Regions from separate parts of the Homo sapiens genome. Here regions 1 and 3 are each reported to be linked to region 2. The links are microRNA targets in miRTarBase. Many come from high-throughput screens and were not tested one by one. Region 2 holds a microRNA gene; each other region holds the end of a gene's coding sequence.
The links. The annotated mature microRNA hsa-miR-6826-3p reads CUCCCCUCUCUUUCCUGUUCAG and lies in region 2 at 1,749-1,770, shown strand. An mRNA with a match to its seed (bases 2 to 7 or 8) in the 3' UTR can be bound and repressed. Matches are read on the target gene's strand: a 7mer-m8 pairs with bases 2 to 8, a 7mer-A1 pairs with bases 2 to 7 and ends in A, and an 8mer does both.

Region 1 (6,312 bases), not on the chromosome of region 2:
GACCCCATTTCCTCATGCCTTTGACCAGGTCATTTTCTTTGAATATTTTTCTTCAAAACACGAAAATACAGTGTGGTGGTCCCTTTCCAGCTGCCGGTTCCCTGCAGGCCAAAATCTGAGATCACCATATTTTTTTTGTATACTTTTGCAACAGAGGAATCTGGTTCCATTTTGCCAAGGAGTCTTACCCTTGGAGGAAAGGCAGAGAAAGGGAAGTGACATAGATGTCCCTGAAAAAGTATATTATTTGCAACAAAACCTTATGAAAATTAGTTAGCAATTATAGCGGTGTCACAGCTGTGAGACTCGGCTCTGGTGGCCTCTTGAGACCAGGAGGGAGCCGGGAGCATGACCATCCTGGGTGCAGCTCATTCTGGATTGTGAAACCACACACACTAAAAGGCCTCTAAATATATGTGCTACCAGCCTCCAAGTTTAAAAAATATAATACAAGAAGCTTATTGAGGCTTCCACAAAGGGAACAGCTAGCAAGTCAACGTGGTGAGTGGAGAGGAATCACCTGCTGCCTGGTTTGGAATGGAGAGGCATTGAGGAGGGCGTTCCAGCTGCTTGGAGGATGTGGCATTGTAGGTTCCCTAGGCTGATGGGGAGTCGTGCAGTGAGAGGGAAGAGGGTGGAGAGCCCTTGACTCAAGGGTCCCAGGTGCCAGGCTGCAGGATTTGGTGAGATCCAGTAGACAACAAGGAACCACTGTGGGATCTTTGATTGTGCATGGCATAACAGTGAATTTACAGACAGTGATCTCTGGGGTGGGACTGGAAGGGAAGAGAGCAAACAGGGATATGGAAGCCGGTTATGATGCCTGCACAGGGATCCAGGCCAGCTGTGAGAAGGGGTGGCAATGACGGGGACATCATGGGAGGGAGCTAATGGAGATCCCAGCTGGAGGAGGTGGCTGGTGTGGAGCAGAAGCTGGCCTGGCGTCTGGGGAGCTGGCCGCTCTCCCAGCCCCTGGGGCCTCAGTTATCTTGTTTCTTCAGCTGCTTCCTAAGGAGTTGACTAGAATTAGATGATCCAGTCTTTAAAGGCTGTAATTGTGGACTCTGTCATTTCACATTTATTTTAAGCGGGGATAGTAATCCCAGCACTGTTGACACCGAGTAACTTCAGCGTCCTCGGTTAGTTCTGGATTTTAATGTGCAAAGTCTGACAGTTTCCATCAAGCCAAGTTGGCACGTTTGTGCCACCAGGTGGTGCACATTGTATTTGGAAAAGCTGAGATTCCACCTTTCCCTGATGAGGAAGGTGAAAGTGGTTAAACTTCTGGCTTCCTGCAAAATGGGATCCGTCGATTAGCATGGAAGGCTACGGGAGGGTGCCCAGGGAATGTCTGGATTATTAGGCAGGGCCCTTTGCCTGGGGGAGACTTGTGACGCTGTGTCGGTTCTGCTTCCCCCTGGGCAGGTGGTGGATGTGGCCAAGCTCATGAAAGCCTACATCAGCATGATCGTGAAGAAGCGCTACAGCACGACACGCTCCGCCAGCAGCCAGGGCAGCTCCAGGTGAAGGCGGGACAGAGCCCACCTGTCTTTGCTACCTGAACGCACCACCCTCTGGCCTAGGCTGGCTCCAGTGTGCCATGCCCAGCCAAAACAAACACAGAGCTGCCCAGGCTTTCTGGAAGCTTCTGGTCTGAGGGAGGTGTCTCCGAGGATCCTTTTGCCTGCCGCCTTCATTGATCCTGTATTAAGCTGTCAACTTTAACAGTCTGCACAGTTTCCAAAGCTTTACTACTCTTAGAGGACACATGCCTTAAAAAAGGAGGGGAGGAACCACGCTGCCACCAAAGCAGCCGGAAGTGCCTTAACTTGTGGAACCAACACTAATCGACCGTAACTGTGCTACTGAAGGGAACTGCCTTTCCCCCTTCTGGGGGAGACTTAACAGAGCGTGGAAGGGGGGCATTCTCTGTCAATGATGCACTAACCTCCCAACCTGATTTCCCCGAATCTGAGGGAAGGTGAGGGAGTGGGAAGGGGGATGGAGAGCTCGAGGGGACAGTGTGTTTGAGCTGGAGTGCTGCGGGCAGCCTTTCTCATGGAATGACATGAATCAACTTTTTTCTTTGTTTCATCTTTTAAGTGTACGTGCTTGCCTGTTCGTGCATGTGTTCATAAACTCAACACTTTAATCATGGTTTCATGAGCATTAAAAAGCAAAGGGAAAAAGGATGTGTAATGGTGTACACAGTCTGTATATTTTAATAATGCAGAGCTATAGTCTCAATTGTTACTTTATAAGGTGGTTTTATTAACAAACCCAAATCCTGGATTTTCCTGTCTTTGCTGTATTTTGAAAAACACGTGTTGACTCCATTGTTTTACATGTAGCAAAGTCTGCCATCTGTGTCTGCTGTATTATAAACAGATAAGCAGCCTACAAGATAACTGTATTTATAAACCACTCTTCAACAGCTGGCTCCAGTGCTGGTTTTAGAACAAGAATGAAGTCATTTTGGAGTCTTTCATGTCTAAAAGATTTAAGTTAAAAACAAAGTGTTACTTGGAAGGTTAGCTTCTATCATTCTGGATAGATTACAGATATAATAACCATGTTGACTATGGGGGAGAGACGCTGCATTCCAGAAACGTCTTAACACTTGAGTGAATCTTCAAAGGACCCTGACATTAAATGCTGAGGCTTTAATACACACATATTTTATCCCAAGTTTATAATGGTGGTCTGAACAAGGCACCTGTAAATAAATCAGCATTTATGACCAGAAGAAAAATAATCTGGTCTTGGACTTTTTATTTTTATATGGAAAAGTTTTAAGGACTTGGGCCAACTAAGTCTACCCACACGAAAAAAGAAATTTGCCTTGTCCCTTTGTGTACAACCATGCAAAACTGTTTGTTGGCTCACAGAAGTTCTGACAATAAAAGATACTAGCTAACACGCTGTGTGTTTCCTTTATCAGAGGAGGCTCTAAAAACCATGGAGGGGAGGCTTATTTTTGTTTTGGCTTTTTGGTGGTTTTTTTTTTTTTTCTTTAGAGACAGAGTCTCACTCTGTTACCCAGGCTGGAGTACAGTGGCGTGATCTCGGCTCACTGCAGCCTCTGCCTCCTGGGTTCTAGCGATTCTCCTGCCTCAGCCTCCCAAGGAGTTGGGAGTACAGGCATGCATCACCACGCCTGGCTAGGTTTTGTATTTTTAGTAGAGATGGGGTTTCACCATGTTGGCCAGGCTGGTCTCGATCCACCTGCCTCAGCCTCCCAAAGTGCTGGGATTACAGGTGTGAGCTACCGCACCCGGCCGGCTTTTTGGTGTTAATGCTATGGTTTCAGTGTCTGGGCTTTGTGTTTGTTTCATGGACTTGCTCATCAGGTCTAAACACAGATCTGCAGCTGTCTCCACTGCTCTTGTAGACACTGAGTGTGACTTCAAGAAAGCAAAAGAAGGGACTGGTAAATGAAGTCACACACAGCTGAGGACTTGAAATGTGTTTATGTCAGACAGTCCCCTATGTCAGCCCCAAAGTGTGCCTGATCTTGCAACCCTGGATCCTAGAACCTGCCTGCACCTCCCTGTGGACCAGAACACACAGGTAGGCAGTTTGGTTGCCAATGTACCCAAACCACCAGGCCAGGCGTCTAGCATGAGCAAGCGCCACTTCTCTTGCAGACCACTGACTCCCACCCTCTGCTCATGCTCACGGATGGCTTCTTCCCATTCTGCAGGGATTGGGATGGAACCTGAAGCCAGGTGCTGCCTGAAGCCTGTGGCCCCGCCAGGCACCCAAGGAAAGCCGGCAAAGACTTGGATGTGTGTTGTCTTTGTTTTTATTTTAGGCTCAGAAAGAATTTGACAGAAGTCTTCTTTCTACTGCTCACCTCTCAGGATTCCCTCTGTGACTTAATTTACTCTGGAAGGCTGTCGCCCGCCCTCAATTATAGATGGGGAAATAGGCAAGGAAAGGCATGACTCAGATTGGGGGGGTTAGAGCAGCACCATAGTTAGAACATAGATTTACATGTGAGCCTTTACATGGCATAGTTGTGGTTTTGTTTTAGCCTTTTATTTAGAAATAATTACAGACTCAGAGAAAGTTGCAACAGAACGTACAGGGAGGCCTGCGTGCCCTTCAGTTTCCCCAGTGGTAGCATCCCCCATCACTGTAGAGCAGCATCACAGCTGACAAAGTACCGTTGAGCTTCCCCTAGCCACAGAACCTATTCCAATTTTACTGCTTTTACATGCACTCATTGGTGTGTGTGATGTCAGTTGCTTTCAACAAGGTCAGTGAAGTGCAGTCGTCCCTTGGTATCCAAGGGAGATTGGTTCCAGGACCCCCTCCCCCCACCCCTGAGGATACAAAATTCACAGATGCTCAAGTCCCTGCTATACAGTGGTATAATATTTGCATAGAACCTGCACACATCTTTCCTTACCCTTTAAATCATCTCCAGGTTACAGATACCTAGCACAACATAAATGCTGCATAAATAGCTGTTATACCGTGTGTGTCTGTGTTTTAAACATTGTTTATTTGAGACAGGGTCTCACTCTGTCACCAGGCTACAGTGCAGAGGCACAGTCACAGCTCATTGCAGCCTCAACCTCCTGGGCTCAAGCAGTCCTCCACCTCAGCCTCCCAAAGTGCTAGGATGACAGGTGTGAGCCACTGTGCCCCACCAAAAAAAGTTTTTTCAAATATTTTCTATCTGTGGTTGGATTCAGACCACATGAACACTGAGGGCTGACTGTAGTTTTGAATGTCTGTTACTGAGGAGGCACCAGCATAAAGTATTTTATCACTTCAGACGCTGACAATCTAGTATTTTTAATTTTTAAATCTTTTGAAAGCTAATACATATAGGTGATTTGTAAAAAAAAAAAAAAAAAAAAAAAAAAAAAAAAAAAAAAACAACTAGAAGTAAAATGTTACTTTTTTCCAGCTGTAGCCCTAATTACCCATTTTCCTTTCCCAGAAACAGCTATTTTTACTGTTTTATTGAATATTCTCTCAAAAATAATTTAAGCTGTCCAATCATTTACTCATACATACATATATATCCCCATCCTCATTTTTAATAGATGGAAACAAACTGTTGTAGCTTACTTTTTTCTCAGCATAGTATTTTAGCTCTAATCCTACATTAATACCTATAGAATTGCCTTATTCTTTTTGATGATTATATAGTACCTCAGATAGCTCTGTGGAAAAACAGGATAAGGCCATCTGTATTAGTCCATTCTCACACTGCTAGAAGGACATGCCTGAGACTGGGTAATTTATAAAGAAAAAGAAGTTGAATGGACTCAGTCTCACATGCCTGGGGAGGCCTCACAATCATGGTGGACAGCAAAGGAGGAGAAAAGGCACATCTTATATGGCAGCAGGCAAGAGAGCTTGCACAGGGGAACTCCCTTTTATAAAACCATTAGCTCTTCCGAGACATACTCACTATGGACAAGAACAGCATGGGAAAACCCACCCCCATGATTCAATTACCTCCCATCAGGTCCCTCCCGTGACAGGTGGGGATTATGGGAGCTATAATTCAAGATGAGATTTGGGTGGGGACAGAGCCAAACCATATCACCACCTAAGTTCTCTGTAAAAATAGTTTCAGCCAGGCATGCTGGCTCACGCCTGTAATCCCAGCATGTTGGAAGGCCGAGGCAAGAGGATCGCTTGAGCTCCGGAGTTCAAGACCAGTCTGGGCAACATGACAAGACCCTGTCTCCACAGAAAATTAACATTAGCCAGGTGTGGTGGTGCGCATCTGTAGTCCCAGCTACTGGGGAGGCTGAGATGAGAAAATCGTTTGAACCCAGGAGGTCAAAGCTGCAGGGAGCCATGATGGTGCCACTGCATTCTGGTGTGGGTGACAGAGCAAGACTCTGTCTCCAAAAAAAAAAAAAAAAAAAAAAAATAGTTCAGAAATCTAAGACAGCACTTTTTTTAGTTACTAAGCCTTTTATTCAGATAGCACACTAAATTGGGGTCAAAAATCTGCTATAGTAAAGTTCTGTATTTGTGTGTATTGGGTATAAAAATAAGCGCTTTAATTAATTTGAAAATCCCTATTCACCAAAAGTTTATACTGTAATAGGGGACAAAACAAGTGCATAAAGCTAAATTTAGCCAGTACATTTATAACTGTTTCATTCAGTTGATCAGAGAAGCATCACGATTGCTGGAAAATATCGGACCTGGATTCAAGGTTTGGCATTGCTGTTTTCAAAGTATGTAATCTTTTAGATCAGGGGTCAGTGAACTACAGTACAGAGACCAAATCTACCCTGCCACCTGTTTTTGTGAATAAAGTTTTATTGAAACAGA
Region 2 (6,312 bases):
CAGGGAGTAAGTATCAGGCCCAAAACTCTGAGTCCCAAGAAAATAAATATCAATAGAAAAGCACTCTAGTGGTTGATGGTCATGGTGGCCCAAAAGTTCCTCCTAATATCTAGCCTGGATTGTTCTGGGCTTTTTATTGCCTGCATATTCATTAGATTCAGTCTTCAGGCTGCAGAGGGCTGAAGTGGTCACATAGGCTGACTTTTTGTGGAGGAAAAAAGCAAAATAATAAAAATAAGGCCTACCTTTCTCTATGTCTGAAACGTGAATTGAGTACCTTCTAAGTAAAGGGAAAAATATCAGATCCATGGCCTCAAAGCACAATCCCTGTTCTCATGGAGTTCAATTAATTGGGAAGACAAGTTGAAAATCTTAGAGCAGTGGTCTTTAAATATCAGTATATATTGGAATAATCTGAGGAAACATGTTAGAAATGCAAATTCCTTGATCCTGAAACCAGAGATTCTGATGTAGTAGATTTGGGATGGAGTCTGAGTTTTTAGCAAGCTCTGCCGCCAACCCCTAGTAATTCTGATACAGTTGATCCATGGTCATAGTGCGAGGAATCCTGCCATAGAATAGGTACAAGAGTGGCAGCTGTAGCCATTATAGGTGGACACCATGTGCACACATCTGCCAGATGCCTCATTCACTTGGGTTATTCCCTTTAGTTTGCAAGGAATGCCAGGACCAGCCAGGGTGGGGTCCCATGGGCCTGTGCTTGAATCCAGTGCTTGAACCTGGGCATAGGGTGTAGGGATAGGTCTTACCAGACACAAACAATTCTAAGTTAGGTTTTCTGCAACACTCTCATTCTGAAATATCTCTTTATTGGCCATTTGTCTTAACTGATAAATATATAGGACCAGTTTGTTATTTTGTCTGATTTTGTAGCTATAGCAGTATCGATCTTATTTTCCTAATTGTCACCTTCTTTTAAGAATCCTTGCTGCGGTAGGGGGCGGAAATCCTTGCTAAGCTTCTATAGCTGGGGGATTCTCCAATTAGGTCTAGGATTTTGTGGTCTCATATCAGTTTTTTGCTTCTGAGGTCTTTCATGGTACAGAGATGGGGAGAGTATTTGTGGGGGGTTGTGCCACATGAGCGAAGTCAGGGAGATGAGAAAATGCATGGATATATTCAGGAAATAATGAGTAGCCAGTTGGGTAAACATATCTATCCATCTAAGGTAGGGTGGAACACCTTGAGAATGGTCATGGGAATTTATTAGAAACCATCAACAAGTTGGTCTGGGGATCGAGAAGCTGAGTGAATGTGGCCTGTGGATTTCAGAGCAGTTGGCAGCAGTGCCAGAGTTCCGCGGTCTTGGGCCCCTCTTCAAGTCCTCGCCTGAGCCCGTGGCCCTCACCGAGTCAGAGACGGAGTATGTCATCCGCTGCACCAAACACACCTTCACCAACCACATGGTTTTTCAGGTGAGCAAGGTGGGCTGAGGCCCTGCTGGGGCATGCGCCCAGGGAGTTGTCCCAGGTCTGGCAGGTCCTGTAGGGTCATGGGTCCCCACACTGCATTGGTTGGGAGCCCAACTTGATGACAGAATCTGTCCCCAACAGGTCGGTCTCTCATATCTCTTGACTCGGGACATCCATGGCTCCCGATTGTCAGCATGAAGACAGGGAACCTGGGGCAGGGGGACTGGGATGGGAATCACCTTGGTCAATAGGAAAGAGGTGGGACCTCCTGGCTTTTCCTCTGCAGCATGGCTCGGACCTAGTGCAATGTTTAAGCTCCCCTCTCTTTCCTGTTCAGTTTGACTGCACAAACACACTCAATGACCAGACCTTGGAGAATGTCACAGTGCAGATGGAGCCCACTGAGGCCTATGAGGTGCTCTGTTACGTGCCTGCCCGGAGCCTGCCCTACAACCAGCCCGGGACCTGCTACACACTGGTGGCACTGCCCAAAGAAGACCCCACAGCTGGTGAGCCCCTCTCCAGATACCACCCTATCCTCCTGGGAGCTCATGGGGTCAGGAGGAGGTGGGCGGCTGGGCACCAGCTGTTTGCCTTCTATTAGAGCTTCAGCTCCTTGATTTCAGTCCCAAGAAGAAGAATAGCTGAGTCCCAAGTGCTCTTCTTTAAAAATTTTTTTTTTTAAAGAGACAGGATCTCACTAGAACTCATGACTTTCCTGTCCTACAAGGTGGCACCCTCTGTCCAGCTTTGTGGGATTGGATGGCTTGTTGCTGCTACTAATAACATAGCAGGGGCCTAGAAAGCAGGCTGTGACCCCTGCCTGCTTGTCCCCTGCAGGAGGAGCCCATCCCCTGCAGGCTGGGGACATCCTAACTACCCAGCCTCTCTTCCCCACAGTGGCCTGCACATTCAGCTGCATGATGAAGTTCACTGTCAAGGACTGTGATCCCACCACTGGGGAGACTGATGACGAAGGCTATGAGGATGAGTATGTGGTAAGATCCTGGTGTCAGGAAGCTCAGTTTTGTGCTGAGGCTGCAAAGCAACTCCCTTCAGGAACTGACAGTGAGACTGGAGCTGTTTTTGGCTTTTTAGCTCTTTAAAATTTTATTTTTTTATTTTTATTTTTTGAGATGAAGTTTCTCTTTTGTTACCCAGGCTGGAGTGCAGTGGCGCGATCTCGGCTCACTGCAACCTCTGTCTCCCTGGTCCAAGCGATTCTCTTGCCTCAGCCTCCCAAGTAGCTGGGATTACAGGCGCCCACCACCATGCCTGCCAAATTTTTTGTATTTTTGGTAGAGATAGGGTTTCACCATGTTGGCTAGGCTGGTCGCGATCTCCTCACCTCAGGTGATCCACCTACCTTGGCCTCCCAAAGTGTTGGGATTACAGGCGTGAGCCACCGCGCCCGGCCTAAAATAACTTTTTAAACTTATGGAAATACATGTTCATGTGTAAAAAGAAAACTTGGGAAATACAAAAACAAAATTCAAAACAAAGTATGAACAACAGGAAAACATTACTCATAATCCTTAGAGTTATTTTTGGGGGGAAGTGGTATAATTGAAATCATTCTTACAGTGTAGACCTTGCTATTTTAAAACCATAGTGTATTTTCCAGTATCATTACAAATACTTCATAAACACAATTTTTTTAGTGGATTTAAAATACTGTTATATACTATGTCAAAACTTGATTGACTTTTCACTCCTTTAATGTTGGGCATTTGGGTTTCCATATTTTCACTATTTATATTGCTGCATTAAATATCCCTTTAGATACAAATTTTTATCTGCATTTTAGATTATTTCTTTAGGATAGATTCCTAGAAGGAGAATAGTTGGGTCAAAGGGTAAGCATGATTTTAAGACATTTTGATTCCTCTTGTCAAATGCTTTCTGGATAAATTTGACCTGTTTGCTGTGCTGGGCAGTCCTTTCATGCACTGGAATAGCCCTTCTAAATTCTCCTATCTTAGCTCGGTGGAACTAAGTACAGGATCCTTCTGAGGTCTGACTTTGGGGCAGTGGCTCAGGGCCATCTGAGTGCAGACCATTATGCTCAGCCTGTGGATGGGGACTGTTAGAACTCCTCCTGACTAGAGGGACAGTCACAGTGGAATACAACTGACATTCGCCATTGTGTCATCCTAGAGTCACAGTTGAGGATGGATGGACCTTCCTTGAGCTGGAAATGACCCCGAGGCAGGAGCTGCTCTAAGACCAAGTGAGCTCCTTGAGAGAGCTGGGTCTGTTTGAGCCCATCCAGAGATGAAGAAAAAAAAAAAAGAGAGAGAGAGCTGGGTCTAAGTTGTATTTATATACACTGTAAACATCCACAGGAGTAGGGCCTCAGTGAAAATCTGATGGGAGAATGAATGGGGAACCTTCATGTAGACTCAGTGGGAGTATTATGTGTCAAGTTCAGGGAAGACACAGCTGAAATGGAGATAGAGATTCAGGATCTGTCAAATCCAGAGGACACAGCTGGGGTAGGAGGTTTCTGCTAGTTTCTGCTGAACTAGAAACAGCTGCTGGTCCTGAAGAGCTCATCATCCCCTAGGAGGGACAGGCATAGGAAGCAGACCTCTGAGAATGCTATGTAATTCCCTGCATGCCAGGTCCTGGAAGCACTGACACTAGGCAGGCTTAGAAGAGATGTGATCTCACAGCAGGCGGCTCTAGGCTGAATTAGTAGATTGGTACTTGGGATTAGGGCGTTTTCTGTTGAAGGGATACCATTTGCCTTTGGGCACCTCAAGGATAGGTACCTGGTCAAGTTGCTCTATGTCCCCAGAGTCTAGCACAGTCCTCAGTGCCGAGCAAGCACCTGTGGAAAGAGTTGCAGGAAGGGATGTGTGGATGAGTTCAGAGCAGAGGCCCGTAGGTGTGTAGATGGGTGCCTGATTTCTACCTCCATCTCTCCAGCTGGAAGATCTGGAAGTTACTGTAGCTGATCACATTCAAAAGGTCATGAAACTGAACTTCGAAGCAGCCTGGGATGAGGTAGGGGATGAATTTGAGAAGGAGGAAACGTTCACCTTGTCTACCATCAAGACACTTGAAGGTAAAATCCTGGGAATGCCATCTCTGGCCTAATTACTGTTCAAGATCTTTGGCTACTATTGAAGTGCTCATCCCTTTTCTCTCCAAGGATCCAGGGCCATGTCTGGAGCACATATGTCAAATGCCACTTCATTAAAAGCCCTTCAGAACATGGGGGAGTGGTGGTGGCACAAAGGGCAGATAAGATGGCTTAACAATATTGGGATTTCTCATTACAGAGGCTGTGGGTAATATTGTGAAGTTCTTGGGAATGCACCCTTGTGAGAGGTCAGACAAAGTGCCGGATAACAAGAACACCCACACGTTGCTCCTGGCTGGTAAGTGGCATTTCTAGATGGGGAGGGCCTGGATAGCTTACAGCCTGGATGCCACTGGATCCTGGGCTAAGGACTCCACTGTAAATATGGGGAGTCAAAATTCACAGCATTTAAAATTCACAAAGTATAAAATAATCTGCAGCGAAATGTTTCCTCCCTACCTTGGCTGCCAGCCATTCAGATTCCCTTCCGAGAAGCGACCAGTGTTACTATTACAAACAATACTTGTATAACCTTGCGGTTATTTTATGGCTATAAAAGCTAATAGGAACGCATTTCCTTTTTTTAACTCAAATGTTTATGTACAAATGGTATATATATTGTCCTCCGATTTGCTTTTCACTTTACATTGCATCTTAGAGATCTTCCCCGTCAATATGTAGAGCTTCCTCATTCTTTTTCTTTTAATTGTGGTAAAATATACATAAAATTCACCATTTCGACCATTTTCAAGTGTATGGTTCAGCGGCATTAAGTACATTCACACTATTGTAAAACTATGACCACCATCCATCTCCAGAACTTTTTTCATCCCAAACTGAATCCTCATTTTTTTTATAGTTGCTTAGTATTCCATTGTGTGGATGCACCACATATTCTATGGAACAGCCACTACTGATGAACATTTAGTTTGATTTCAATCTCTTGCTATTACAGATGTTACAGTAAATAATCGTGTACACACACACACACACACACACACACAGTTTACTTTGCATGTGTACACTGAGAATATCTGTAGGATAAATTTTCCAAGGCATCACCAGTTCAAAGTGATTTGTGTTTCTCATCTTGATAAATAACTCCAAGTTGCCTTCCATAGAATTGTATACCTTTCTTCCTACACTGTGGACAACATAATATGTTACCACACTTTATGATCTTTTCCAGTCTGTGTGGACAATGATATCTTAGTGTAGTTTTTGTATTTTCAATGAAGTTAAGTATCTTCTTAAATGTTGAGGCATTTGTATTTCCTTTTCTGATCATTGTCTTCATATCCTTTGTCTTATTTTCTACAGGGTTGGCTGAGTGTACCCACACTCATTCTCCTTCCCAGATTATTTACTAGCAAACTCCAGAAATAGCATTTTATATGTAAATCCTGTATCTGTATGTTTCTCTAAGAGAGAATGACCCCTTCCCTTTTTTAAAGGACAATACAATTATCATACCTAAAACAGTTAACAAAAGGAAATGGGATGATTTTTTTTGGCTGAGTGTTTATAAACAGGGTTGAAAGGAGGCTCTGCTTCAGTACCCTGCCTACAGCTGACAGTTTGTAGCCACATTGAAACAACCTAGTCCCCTGGGTCTTGCAGACACCTGCCCTGTGGTTTTCTCGTGGTGGGGCTGTCCCCTTCATTTGTGCTCTCAGATTCAGTCAACGTGCAAGAGCCTCTGTGACATGAGATATAAGCCTTTTATGTCCATCAGTTCATTTGAACTTAGCAGAAGCCTGAAATATGGTATTATCATCCCTGCCACTTTGT
Region 3 (6,312 bases), not on the chromosome of region 2:
AGTCAAAAGAGGTTATGGACAAATATGTAAGGGCAGAATAATTCAATACAGTGTCAATAAAGTACTTTTAAAGCCAAAGATGAAAGCAAAGAAAGGTCCTAAGAGAGATAAATAATAATGAAATATAATTAACTAGTGAAGCAAGTTACCTACAATCTTAATGGGGAGTGTGGAGTTCAACTTACCCAAATCGGGAGGAAAAATTAATTAACTGGCTTATCTTGAACCCAGGAGAGGCCAACTCGTCAAAGATAGGAATTTGGGGTTCCTTTTTTTCTGTGACTCTTAAAGGGGACTTAACATGTTGGTTAGTGTCCAGGTAAGATCCATCTCATTTCTTGACCAACGCCTCTGGAAGATTTGCGCCAGTCTGCTGAAATAGTCACCCCGTCTTGCTTGTGACAGTATGATTTTTCTGTAATGGATTAGCGTTTTTAACCCAAAGATATTTTAGAATGAAGTACAGAGATTAGGTAAATCAAATTTAAACTATTAACAATTTTGTATTAAGTTCAAAAATAGTTTTTGTAATAATTGGGACAATCTATATATATTTGGTATTTAAAATATTTGTGGCTGGGCATGCCTGTAAGTCCAGCACTTTGGGAGGCTGAGGTGGGCAGATCACCTAAGGTCAGGAGTTCAAGACCAGCCTGGCCAACATGGCAAAATCTCCTCTCTACTAAAAATACAAAAATTAGCCCTACTAAAATACAAAAATTAGACGGGCGTGGTGGCGAGCACCTGTAATCCCAGCTACTGAGGAGGCTGAGGAGGGAGAACCGCTTGAACCCAGGAGGCAGAGGTTTCAGTGAGCTGAGATCGCACCACTGCACTCCAGCCTGGGCAACAGAGTGAGACTCCATCTCCAAAAATAATAAATAAATAAATAAAATGTTTGCGAGCTTTAAAAATGTACTTTATTAAGATACCTAACAGGTTAGCCTCTAACACCAATTTAAATGGGTAGTTGAGTAATTAATTGTAGGTTCCTGATGTTGAGTCAAAAGGTATAAACTACATTGGGATGCTTAATAGAACTTATGAATCACCATCTTTAGAAGTTTAGTGTATTAGCTTTACTTGGAATGGTTTAAGTATATTGGAAGGTTTTTCCCATTAAAGAAATTTGAAGTGCCTTAAAAAGAAAATGGGATATATTAAGCTCATAAAAGCAATGTACAATAGTTAAAGGAAGTTTATTAACTAGGTTGAAACTAGAATTGGTTAATTAAGGGAGGTTGGTCCATTCAATGTGAGTTGAAGACATCAATCAAAGGCTCCCTTGAAAGTGACTGTCAAAATTTCTAGATTTACAAGTAGACTAGGATTTGTAATGTATTCATTCAGAATATTTACTGGGTGTCTGCTAGGTGTTAGGCACTATTCTGGGTGCTAGGAATATAGCAATGAGCAAAACAAGGGCAAAAACATATCATAATGGGGCCTGGACACATTAAACTTAAAAGCTTTAGAGAAAATTTAAAAACTAAGTTATTAAATTCTTTGCTTTAATATGTTAGATATTAACAATAAAACAAACTGCCATAAATAGCCTCTTTATTGCACAGAATTTCTCCTAAGGGACACCAAAAACTCACATTGACAAGTGTCTCTATTCATTCTTTTATCACTAGTGCCTCATTCACGTTTAACTCTCAAAATTGTGTGTAGCTTGAGTGTTGAATCTTCTCCTCTATGTTCTGGAGTTTTTCACATCATTCCCAAAAAATCTGAGTTAACCAAGATTTTCTTCTTAAAATACAAATCTCTCTAAGGTTAAAGGCTAGGAGATATTTACATTTTCATGCAATTCAATCAGATTGTGTTTTTCCTAACACCTGAGTTAAGGAATAAACTAATAGAGGAAAGAAAGAAAAATAACTTTAGACATGAAAATATTTGTTCAGAAAAGGGAAATCTCTGGATTGGGAACATATTAAAGTACAAGTCTGGTAGTCCTCAGGGCATTCGTGAGCTTGGGCAAATTGGGTGCCAGGTATAAAAAGAGTGGTGCAAAAATGCAAAGAATTCTCAACGATTTCAAAAGCAGCTTCCACCCAGAAAAGACAGTCTCTTTTCCACTTTCCCAGGTGATTACATCCTCTCAAAACTCAGAAGTCAAAATTGCTTTGTTAAAAAGCTCCATTTGGGTAAATAAAGTTTCTGCAAAATGACCTGGAAACTCAAACAATCACCGTGTCCACGGGAAAGTGTTTCTTAGTTCTAAGGGTCCACTTGCAACCAGTTTTTTGAAACATGACCTATTTGTAAATTGACTATTGTGTTGATAACCAAAACTCATAAAAATCACACCCAGGGCAGTCCCAGCAAAGAGTAGAGAGCCAAAGCCCAGTAATGGCTTAAACTGTAAGTTTACTGGGCCAAGCCCAAAGCTAAGAATTCAAGGAGTTTTGCAACCCATACCCATTTTTCAGCTGCCCTTATGCCAGCAGTTACAATTCACACACTCCAAAACTTCAGGCAATGCTGCTGGCCTCTGTACCATTTCCTCCTCCGCCAGCTGACCAACCCTAAGGATTGTAGCTAACTGCACATTCCCCACGTCAATATTTAGGGACCAATCAGAGAGCAGGTAGATGATCTGGGGACAGAATTGTACAGTGGTTAACTCCTCAGGCTCTAGAGTCTGAATGAACTAATTTTAAATCCTAACTACAATTCCCTGGCTGGATGCCCACAGGCAGGTTACTTAAATTCTCTGCACCTTGGTTTCCTCATTTGTAAAATGGGGATTATAATAATATCTACCTCTGAGGGTTTTAAATGAGATTCTACATGTGTAGAATAACATCATGCCTGATAGAGTGAGTGCTCACATTCACACATGAGTTCCCCAATTCACAGCAAGCACAGAAAAACATTTGTATCTTCTGCTTCCAGTATGCCACAAAGGTAATGAGTAATTACACTGACATCTTGGTTGACTTAGGTAACCACTTTCTTACCTCAACATTACTGCTTTGTTTTTTTCAACATTAAAGCAACTAAGAAATAATCCAATTTCTATTTGGATTCCTGAAGTGCTGGGATGAGGGACAGGCTTATAAACACTGGTCTAATAGGTGACAAGGATTTGGCTTTATTCTAGTAATAAAAATGTCATGAAAAAGGAGTTATTGAAGAGTTATGAAGAAAAAGTGTAATGCTCTAAATGATAGATTTTTAAAATCATCAGTTTGTTTTCAGGCATTGAGTCCCAAACTGGAACAAACTACCTCTGACAATAATTCTGTGAGAAAAGGATTTTTCTAAATCGATCCATATAAACCAGGCTGAGTTATTAAGGAGAAAAATGCGTTTAATAATATAGCATTCGATTGCATATCATCCAGGAAAGGTGTACTGTAAAAAATGTTTTGATTATTCATTGACCTCTGGTAACTTTAGCGTTGTAAATACTTGTATTATATGAGGTAGACAGTTTAAAAAAAACTCTCCATTAGACAGACTTAAAATTTTGTAATAATATTTAAGAAAATGGTAACATTATGAAAAAATGAAATATCTGATTAATGCTTAACTTTGTACAACTCGAATATAAACTTTAAAAATATTAGAAATTATAACATTTGAGTGCATATAACGTTTTGTACATTAGGATGAATTGCATGCTGTCCATTTCCTCTTTGCACTTTCAGTCACCTTAAATAAACAAATATATACAGCCTTAACAGAACAACAGTGCATCCAAAGCAAATGTGCATTTTAAATTATTTCTCCTGGCCAAGTCTTTTTTTCACTTAGCATTTTTATATTAGCATTTCTTATCATCCCCACCCTTTCTTTGACAGTTTGTAGTTCTCTGAACCAAACAAGCAACAGGTTTAGATTGGAAGAGAGCAAAATCACTTAGGAAAAACTAAAACTTTTTAAAAGGCTGGTACAAATTCCATTGATTAAACAATTTTATAGTCAAAGATGAGGAGGAAGCTAACTCTTCAAAGGGCCTACTCATGGGCAATGTTTGAAAACAATACTGGTGCAGGCTGGGGGAAAGTTCATGTTTTTGACTATCTGGGAATGGGTATTTCAATTTCACTGTGCTCTCTCCAGCTTCCTCCCAGAAGACGAATTCCACCCCTGTCTCCTTCCTCACTGCCTGTTCCCCATCTCCCACCCCAAGCTCAATGTAACACTTGGCTCTTTTCACAGTTTCTCATTACTAAGTTTTAAAAACATTGCCTAACTGATAATTACAATCTGAACCAATTCTTTTGGGGGAGCCCTGGGCTATTGCTGGCTGGTAATCTTTCAGGAATGTCAAAGAGAGGGGAGGGAACTCAGATTTTAAAGAAACTTCAGAGACAGGGACTTGTGTCCCCTTTCATCCCTCCCTTCCCCACTCCTGGCTCCTGGCCTGTCCCTTGATCCCCATCCTCCCTGAGGCCCACCATCTTCCCTCCTGATGGGACTCCTTCTACTTCTTGGTTCCTTTTCCCTCCTTTGTAGCTCTTACGTTAATTGTTTTGTTCCCCACTCCTGCCCATTTTTTTGAACTGGAAAATCACCTTCCCCTTAGAAGTGCATGTCTGAATTTTGGCAAATTCTGTTGAAAGAAATCAATTAGAATCAGAAAGGGCATTTGGGTGGGCTACCTCCAGCCTGGGCTAATGCACCTCCGTGTCAGCCCCAGTCAGAGGCAGGCCTTGTGGTTTCTCATTATCCTTCAAGGGGTTCCATTTGGACTAATTCTTGTCATTCCATCCATACCAGCTCCCCTTGCCCCCACCAGAAAAAGCAACAATGAAGGCAGAGACCTGGGCCCTCAGGAGTGAGATGAAGGTTGCCAGTTCCTGGTACCGAAAGAGGCCAGGGCAGAGCTGGTAAACTCACAGAGTACACAAATGGGTGAGAGGGGCACCCGTGGGCCCACCTCTCTCAAAGCTCTTCTATAGGCAGGACCATTCCTGACTTAACTATTCTTTTTGCCAATTTCCCTATCTAACACTTTCTGTGTGGGAGGGCACAAGACATGGGCTATGACATGGCCAGAGACCCCACCTTCTTTACACATGTAAAAACCAACCAAATCAAGATGCGTCAACGGTGATTCTTCCTCCCACATTGTTTCCCTTTTTAAACTGTTATTTTTTCAATCCATGGAGCAGTTGAGAAACGGGTATGCATCTCTCCTCCCCTCCCCTTCTATCAAAGCCTGTAAGACACATAAGGAAATCCAAAGCCACAGTAATAGAGAGAGAGAGAGAGAGAGAGAGAGAGAGAGAGAGAGAGAGAGAGAAAACAGAACAAAAGAAATCCTCCTTGGCTTGTTTTTCCAGGGTGGCCAGGCAAGGTGTGAAAATCCATATTTCCCTCTGGGCTGGCAGGTAGAAGTTACTGGGAAGGCTGCGCTCCCTTCTCTCCCACCGGCTCTCACATCCAGGCTGTTCCCTCACCCTCAGCCTCCCCCAGCGCCAGCTTCCTCCTCCGCCTCTCTGCAGCCAGGCCTCCCCTGCAAGGCGGACCTTGGCCCACCTTGGTTCCGGGCCAAGGCGGCGGGAAAGGCACCGCTACCTGCAGCCGCACGACTCCACCACCATGTCCTCGTACTGCTTGTAGACCACATTATTGCCCGCGTCGATGTATAGAATGCTGATGGGAGTCAATTTGGTGGGCACGCAGCAGCTGGGCGGGGTGGAGCCGGGGTCCATGGAGTTCATCAGCGTCTGGATGATGGCGTGGTTGGTGGGCTCCAGGTGCGAGCGCAGCGGGAAGTCGCATACACCCTCGCAGTGATAGGCCTCGTACTCCAGGGGCGCGATAATCCAGTCGTCCCAGCCCAGCTCCTTGAAGTTCACGTGCAGGGGCTTCTTGCTGCAGCGTAGCCTGGACTTCTTGCCGTGCCGCTTGCCATGGCGACTGGCGAAGGCCGTGCGCCGCCGCCGGCGGCCGGGCGAGGGCAGCCAAGGCCTGGCATCCGGGGCGCCCGACGGCGGCGGCCACGACCCCTCGGCGCCCGCGCCCGGGCCCGCAGCCTCGGCCGAGCCCAGCTGCTCGCGCATCTCTGCGAACAGGTTCTTGCGCTGGGATCTGGTGAATACCACCAGCAGGGCCCGCTCCTGGGGAGGCCGCACCCTCCGGCCGAAGCCCAGACTCCGCAGGTCCGGGGGCGGCGGTTGCTGGGGTCCCCGCGCGCGCGCCTCGGCCTCCCCGGCGTCCAGCTCGCCCCATGCGGCCCGCAGCTCCAAGCACAGCTGCTTCCAGGGCTGGTGGCGCAGGCCCTGCCACACGTCGAAGACTTCCCAGCCGGCCGGCGGCGCCCCCTGCGGGTCCAGGGTCCGCGCGTCC

Region 1: miRTarBase lists MYO10 as a target of hsa-miR-6826-3p. Seed matches in the 3' UTR shown: 7mer-m8 at 1,783-1,789, 7mer-m8 at 2,013-2,019, 7mer-m8 at 2,962-2,968 and 7mer-A1 at 5,383-5,389.
Region 3: the mRNA of GDF6 is a reported target of hsa-miR-6826-3p. Seed matches in the 3' UTR shown: 7mer-m8 at 5,158-5,164 and 7mer-A1 at 4,534-4,540.

Annotation. Positions count from the first base shown.
Region 1 is chr5:16,661,907-16,668,218 of GRCh38, reverse strand. MYO10 (myosin X) reads left to right here. Exons shown (of 41, transcript NM_012334.3): 41 at 1,426-6,312. The coding sequence ends at 1,527. Among named protein-coding and RNA genes, the nearest start is that of RETREG1, 48 kb to the right of the region's middle.
Region 2 is chr3:129,270,474-129,276,785 of GRCh38, forward strand. It overlaps MIR6826 (microRNA 6826), which reads left to right and starts at 1,673; the gene lies at 1,673-1,770. It overlaps COPG1 (coat protein complex I subunit gamma 1), which reads left to right. Exons shown (of 24, transcript NM_016128.4): 19 at 1,294-1,436; 20 at 1,771-1,942; 21 at 2,334-2,431; 22 at 4,365-4,503; 23 at 4,721-4,819.
Region 3 is chr8:96,139,029-96,145,340 of GRCh38, forward strand. GDF6 (growth differentiation factor 6) reads right to left here. Exons shown (of 2, transcript NM_001001557.4): 2 at 3,305-6,312. The coding sequence ends at 5,535. Among named protein-coding and RNA genes, the nearest start is that of GDF6, 19 kb to the right of the region's middle.